Homo sapiens: one gene and its partner. The protein of the gene in region 1 interacts with the protein of each later gene in a pairwise test. Each region holds a gene or a part of one and is shown in the gene's direction. Other genes may lie near its edges.

The links.
Region 2: the proteins of HSFX1 (region 1) and RBFOX1 interact in a two-hybrid assay, tested with the Homo sapiens proteins (one large-scale study listed by BioGRID).

The regions. Positions count from the first base shown.
Region 1 is NC_000023.11:149,772,662-149,776,867, forward strand, and holds HSFX1 (heat shock transcription factor, X-linked), read left to right. Parts: upstream 1-1,406; 5' UTR 1,407-2,020; coding exon 2,021-2,584; intron 2,585-3,421; coding exon 3,422-4,129; 3' UTR 4,130-4,206.
Region 2 is NC_000016.10:7,576,024-7,579,523, forward strand, and holds part of RBFOX1 (RNA binding protein fox-1 homolog 1), read left to right. Parts: intron 1-3,500. UniProt on the Homo sapiens protein: RNA-binding protein that regulates alternative splicing events by binding to 5'-UGCAUGU-3' elements. Regulates alternative splicing of tissue-specific exons and of differentially spliced exons during erythropoiesis.

The DNA.
Region 1 (4,206 bases):
CGAGCACGACTCCGCCCTTGGCACTGGCCTCCAGCAAGCCCTGTTCTCTTTGGGGTACAGGGGAACGGGATGGTTTAGACTTTCCTGCTCAGTGTGTAAAAAATGTAGCTAAAGCCACTATTTTTGCTCTCCTTAAGCTGTTCAATAAACCGGTTCCTCATTTTACACGTGCATGATGTGTATCTTCTTTGCTGGATGGGCCAGGAAACTGGAGTGGTCCTCTCAGCCAGCCTCAGAGGAAAGAAATCTCTAGCTGGCACAGGCAGCCAGTGAGTGAGGCTGGCGGCTGCAGGGGCACAGCCTTTAGAATGAGTCCTTCAGTGCACAGGTCCCAGGGTATACGGGGTAGTGGGAGGAAGGAGGGGACGCCTCGCAGATGCCACTGTTGGCTGGGCTACACCTTGCCACACTTGTTACTGCTTAGGAGGCTTTCTGGAGTGTTCCTTGGGTGCTACGACAATCTGCAGCAGACACTGTCCTTTCACCGCTCCTGGTCCTCGTTTGCTCCCCAGTGATGTCAACAGCTGAGGACTGCTCACGCTGCAACAAAAGGCTCTGCAGTCGCTGTCTAGCTTGCCCTAGTCGTCTCTAGAGTTCTGCCTGAACTGAAACTCAAGTGGGGTTCAGCTCATGACTTGTGGCAATTGACCAGGAAATTCACCAGTTGCTGTGGCTGGAAGGATTTTCAGTCCTGTGGGTTGTAACCAGAGGCCACAGGTGGATTCTGCCTTAGGCTCATGAGATTTCCGACTTGCTGTTGAAGAAAATGCCTTGTGAAGTGACAACAGTAGCTCTGACCCAACTGCCGGTGCCTCGCTAGTTCCTATACGTCCCACTGGATCCTCACAGCCCCGGGAAGCAGGTGCTACTACTCTTATCCCCGGGAGGAGACAGAGGCCGAGAGAGGTTAAGTGACGTGCCCAAGTCACACAGCTCGGCAGCGGCCGGGTTGAGCATCAGCAGTCTGTTTGCAGACCCCTCACTGTCACCCCCTGAGCCAGTGCGCCTTGGGCCCTGCGGTCAGGATGTCTCAAGCGTGGAGGCATCACCGGTTCGTGGCAGTCTCTGGAAGGTCACTGAGCTCTGTGCCCAGAATCGAGTCGGGGGAGTCTGTGCAGAGGTGGCCCTGTGTGTGGGGACAGTGTGTGACACAGACACTGCTTTGGATGGACACCTCTCCCGTGACCTCCTAGCATCCAATCCCAAAGGAACAACTGTTGCAGAGATGGACCGCTGGACACAAACCCACGTGCGTTTCTCTGGAGACACTGGCCAAGGAAAACAAAACATGCTCGAAGGCCAACAGCTGCATGCCCCACCGCGATGTGACCGCAGACACCCGGGGTGTAGAAGGGTCTCTGCCTGGTGGGGGGACACGTGCAGGCCGAGGAGAGGCAGGAAGGAGGCTGCCTCCGACTCCCCACTGGACTGCATGGCGACGGCGTGTGGTGGGGCAGTCAGCTAAGCCATTTGCCTAAGGGGCTGTCGGGCATCTGCGTGCTGGGGACCGACAGTGTGGGTGTGTTAGGAGGATCTGTATGGAGCACATTGCTGCCTCTGGCTAGGACAGGGTGGAAAGGGTGGCGTGGCTACAGCCTGACCCATGGGCACCGTCCTACCCTTTGTTCTGTGCTTCCGAGTGTCAGTCATGTGCTGGGGTCTGTGGGCCCATGACTCAGACGGTGAGCTCTGACCTTCCTGAGCCAGGGCTTTGCTGTAGTTGTGCCTGGCTCAGGAGCTCTAGGACAAGGGGACCGCTCCAGGTCTGCATCTACGGTGTGGCAGGGCCCCTCGGCACTCTTGTGCACTAGTGTCATCTTTCCCATTGAAATGACTGTGAGGACCAGAATGTGCACATGCAGATGGGCAGCTACTTGTCTGCCTTGGCCCTTTATTACACAACTTGCTGGGGGTGGAGATGCCACCCCCCGGCAGTCAGAGCCCCTTTATGATGTCATGGGGCTGGTTACATGACTGCCAAGGGGTGCTGCTGGCCACACTGCACTAGCAAGTTTGCCAGATGGAGGACAAGCGATCATTGAGTATGGCTCGCTGTGAAGAAAGAAATTCGAGAGGACAGGATCATGGCTTGGAAAGGGTGCCTTTCCCTCCCCAGTTGCAGTCAGAGACCTACCTTCACCCAGCAGATCCTTCCCCTGCCTGGGACGACCCGGGGTCCACTGGGAGCCCTAACTTGAGGCTGCTGACAGAAGAAATCGCTTTCCAACCTCTGGCCGAGGAAGCTTCGTTCAGAAGGCCGCACCCTGACGGTGACGTCCCGCCCCAGGGAGAAGATAATCTCCTCTCCCTCCCCTTTCCACAGAAACTGTGGAGACTGGTCAGCAGCAACCAGTTTTCGTCCATCTGGTGGGATGACAGTGGGGCTTGTAGAGTGATCAATCAAAAACTCTTTGAAAAGGAGATTCTCAAAAGGGACGTCGCACACAAAGTGTTTGCCACAACTTCGATAAAGAGCTTCTTCCGCCAGCTAAACTTGTATGGCTTCCGAAAACGGCGTCAATGCACTTTCAGGACCTTCACCCGCATTTTCTCCGCAAAAAGGCTGGTCTCCATCTTGAATAAGGTAATGAACGACAAGCCTCTGGAGGGGTTAAGTCGGTGGGCTCTGGGGCCTGGTCGGGTGGAAGTCCCAGGACTGCCTCCTGGGAAGTGGGCGACCTCAGGCAGGGTGTGGGGCCATCGCTGTGGGCCTGTGTCCCCCTCTGGGTGGAGGTGACATGAACTAAGAGTGAATGTGGGGAGAGGGCTGAGGATGGTGCGGGCCCCTCTCGAGTGTGTAAAATATCACAGGTGCCAAGTAGCCGTATCTGCGTGTCGTCCTCCCCGGGGCCAGCCATGTCATCTGGCGGTTGCTGTGTCCCCCTGACTCCACAGCACATTACCCTGTGAGGTGAGCAGGCCAGGGGAGTCTGGTATTTGTACCACTGTCACCCTAGCTGGTGTCTGGAGAGGTGCTCAAGTGGAAGCACTGAAGGGCGCCTGGCGCAGGAGGTGCAGATGCTCCTGCTGCCCTTGGTAGGTGGGCCCCTGGTGTGGAAGAGCCAGTACCCAGGGCCTCCAACCCAGCCGGGGTGCATTCTGTTGCCAGCTGACACTGCATGGGGGAGGCCCAGAATCTTCTTCCCTCCTGGTCTGCAACTTCAAAGACCCTTTCCGCCGGCCATGGACACCCTAATCTGCCATTTTGAGGCTTTTTCCAAGACGGAAAGGCCCGCCACAACTTGGTAAACCTTGACGATGTGAACGCGAGTCCCCAGCTTCCTTTGGGGACTGGGACCTTTTCCAGAAAGGCCTCCTGGGCCAGTAGAGTTCTCTTGCACAGGGGCGTAGATGGTTGGTAGTTGTAGTCCATCCTTGTGACTTGCAGTTTCCTTTTGTTTATTTAAACTTTGACTTATAGTTAGAGTTCTACTGCCATCCTTACTTTCAAAGAGACTCCCCTCACCTCCTCGTGAGGATGAAGAGAAGAGTGGGTGTCAAGTCTGCACCAAGACATCAGGAGGAGGACAAGCCAGAAGCTGCTGGATCCTGTCTGGCACCAGCAGACACTGAGCAACAAGATCACACGTCTCCGAATGAGAATGACCAGGTCACACCGCAACACCGGGAACCGGCCGGTCCCAACACCCAAATCAGGAGTGGCTCTGCTCCACCAGCAACTCCTGTGATGGTGCCTGATTCCGCCGTGGCGAGTGACAACAGTCCAGTGACCCAGCCGGCCGGCGAGTGGTCAGAGGGCAGCCAGGCTCACGTCACTCCGGTGGCCGCTGTCCCTGGGCCTGCAGCGCTGCCCTTCCTCTATGTCCCTGGATCTCCCACTCAGATGAATTCTTACGGGCCTGTGGTGGCCCTTCCCACAGCGTCCCGTAGTACCCTTGCCATGGACACCACAGGACTTCCTGCACCTGGCATGCTGCCCTTTTGCCATCTCTGGGTACCGGTGACCCTAGTGGCTGCTGGGGCTGCACAGCCTGCTGCCTCCATGGTCATGTTCCCCCATCTCCCAGCTCTGCACCACCATTGCCCCCACAGCCACCGCACGTCACAGTACATGCCAGCTAGCGATGGGCCCCAGGCGTACCCAGACTACGCAGACCAGAGCACATAGAGGGCAGCATTTGGGCAGAATATGTGCTGGTCAATAAATGTGTCAGAAAATGAGTAATTTTCTGACTGCACAAAAAA
Region 2 (3,500 bases), on another chromosome or scaffold:
CCTGGGCTCCAGCCATCTCCCACCTCGGTCTCCCAAGTAGCTGGGATGGCAGGCACATGGCCATGATCAGCTATTTTTTTTTTTTTTAATTTATTTAGTGGAGACAGGGTCTCACTATGTTGCAGGCTGGTGTCAAATGATCCTCCCACCTTAGCCTGCCAAAGTGCTGGGATTACAGGCATGAGCCACTGCACCTAGCCCCATTACCCCATTAATGTCCTTTGATGGAAAAGTAAAGTGAAGGTCAGAGAAGAAAAGTGACCTGCCTAAGATTAGCAAATAACAGGGATGGTCTGTGTGATTCCAAAACCCTGGTTCATTGTGCTGCATCCCACCATATAAAAGGCATGCAGGCTGAAAGAGATTTCCTTTTTCTGTTGTTTTATTCACTCCTCAACCTCTACTTCCTAACACTCTTCTTTTTCCCTTTCCATACACCCACAATGACCTGAAACACTTTTGGCTTACTTTTTTATTTTGCATGCTTTAAGGATTCTTTTTAATACACAGGTATTTCTCCATAACAGTTTATACGCATTTGTATATAAGCATACACTACAAAATGATTAATTGAGCGTTGTATGTTTTTATCAAAGGAAACAATGCAAAGATTTCTCCAAAGTGCTGTTTGACTAGAGATGATTAATTTTAATTTTCACATGAGCGGTATAATGCTATTAATCATTTAATATGTTTAATCATAATCTCTGTAATTCCTAATTAGGTTCATTAAACTGAAACATCCAGCAGTTATACACAAATCCAAATCTATGTTTCCTTCTCAGGATAAGAAGGAGCTCATTTTGTTTTTGCATTGAAACGGGAACTTCTAACAGGATGGAAGAGAATGGACTGGAAGCTTAGGGTTTCAGCTACAGCATCTGTAAACTCCGAGTCTGGGTGTAGAGTACTAAAACCCCTTAACTTCTGAAAAGTGACAGTTGCAGGATTCGAGCTCATTTCTGTGTCATGGACGTGGCACCAAACCTCGTATTCTCAGCGGAGAAAACGCAAATTCTGCTCTGTTTGGGTTTCAGTGTTACAGTGTTGCTCTTCGACTATCACATGAAGGCGGCGACATTGATTGTACACTTCTTCATGCATTTGTTTATTCGTGTACTAATAATTCATTCGGTCAGTGAGTGAGCCAACTGTTAAACAGACATTTATCATTTGTGTTACAAGCTGGTCATACCACACTCCTGCTGTGACCCTTAGGTGGCTCCTTATTGCTCTTAGGATGAAGCTCAGACTCTTGCTTTGCACAGTGTCCTTTGATCTAGCCCCTTGACTATCTTTGAAACCTGTCCTCCTGCCTTCCCTTCATACATGCCTCATCTGACCAGTGGTGCTGGAGTCCACACATACTCTCCTGAATCCAAGACATCATTTCACATCTCTGCACATCTGCACATGCACTGCCCTGTCTTGGAATAGCCTCAGTCCTTTTCACCTCTTCTCTTAGACATCTCCCACTTAACGTTTAACCTCCAGAATTGGCAAGCCTGGCTGAACCTCCAGCAGTGTCATATGACCTTGATTTAAGGTTACTCAGCCCTTTGTGATTGCCTCTTATCCCAACATTTACCAGTCTCTGGGGATGGTGGCTCACGCCTGTAGTCCCAGTGCTTTGGGAGGCAGAGGCAGAGGCAGGAGGATCACTTGAGGCCAGAGGTTCAAGACCAGCCTGGGCAACTTAGTGTGACCCAGGCTCTGCAAATAAAAATTAGCTGGGTATAATGGCTCATGCCTGTAATCCTAGCTACTTGGAAGGCTGATGTGGCAAGATTGAGCCCAGGATTTCAAGGCTTCAGTGAGCCGTGATTGTGCCATGGCATTCCAGCCTGAGTGACAGAGCAAGACCCAACTCCAAGAAAACAACAACAAAAGACAATGACAAAATGATTCTATTTATGATTGTTTTTCTCTATTGGTGTCATGCACTAAAGTTGGAATTGCATGTGACAAGGAGGGCTGATTTATGTGTCCAACACAAAGCAGTTGCTCAGTAAAGATGTGTAAACACTTTAAAAATAAGCAAATGAAAACCTTTCCTTCGTGTTTCTCAAAGGAGGTTTATTTCTCTTTTTGGTATTTAAAAAACTTGCCATCATTCTAAACATTTCGTCACTTTCCATTTATTGAATACATACCAGGAACTTGGCCAAGTTAGCACACATTAATCAATCACAAAGCCTCAAAAGGTATGAACTCATTATTCTTTATTTACCAGTTAAGAAAATGACCACTGTACTGCTTCCTATTCAATCCAACAGTATAGGCAAAATGACTAAATACATTGTCTAAATACATGACTTGCACTTAAAAGCTGAAGTCAACTGGTAGGTCTTTTGATACCAGAGCATCTTGGAAGAATGGTTTGCCAGCTAACAAGATGTCTTTATTTCAAAATGCGATTCAGGGTGTGTTAGGAAGGAAAATGCAAATGAAACCTTCCAGTACATACCAGGGCTGATGAGAAACTTGCTAATTATGCCCATGTTATCTGAGTGTTTGTTTTGTATTTCACTTTGTAAGATTGTCTTCTCTCGGTCGTTATTATTTTACACCTGGCTGCCTACATTGATAGTTTTGTCCCAATTATGTACTTCTAGATTGCTTATAAACAGGTCAGGATGATTCCTCACTCATAAATTTGATAGGCTTCTGTGTAAGCTTTCTATCATAGTTTCAAAGTTGGTATCTGATGTGGATGGCATTTACTGCCAGCTGGAGGCAATAGTTGCTAATTGCAGAGAAGTATCAAATGCTAAATGTCTGAAATGTTAAAACTCTAGAACCGAGAGTATGGCAGTGGCTATAATGATACCTAATGTGACTGTGACTTTTCCCCTCGTTCCTGCCAAATATGTGGGTGTCAATGTAACGTCATGTTATACAGCCTTATTTGGAAGACAGGGGAGGTGAAACAATCAGTTATGCTGATGATGTTACATGGTCTAGGCAAACAGAGCACAACAGCACTTTCTGCAGAGATGGAAACGTTCTGTATTTGCATTATTCAGTATGGAAGCAATAACTACATGTGGTTCTTGAGCGCTTGAAATGCAGCTAATGCAAACAAAGTTAAATATCTTGTTTTAATTCAGTTAAATGTAAATTGTCACATGTGGTCAACTGTAGTGGACAGCAAAAGTTTGTACAATTAGAACCTCAAAAGAATAAGTCAATCAGCTGGTTATTTGAACTCCAGAATGCCAACTAGTCTTTTCACATTTTTTACATTTAATTATGTTTTATCTGCACAATTACCTGAACAATTATGTAGGCATATCTTCAGATTCTGAACAGCGTCGGTTAAGAAATACACACTGTCCTGCCTTTAAAGATTATTACCCCCTTCTTGATGAGGTTCTCGCTCCCCACCTCCCAACCCCAGCAGCTCCCAGTCCCCTTCCTTTGCTTTTTCTAGCCTATAGTGCTTTTCTCTGTCTGCCAACACTCTATCTATGGATTTATTGTCTGTGTTGCCCTCATGA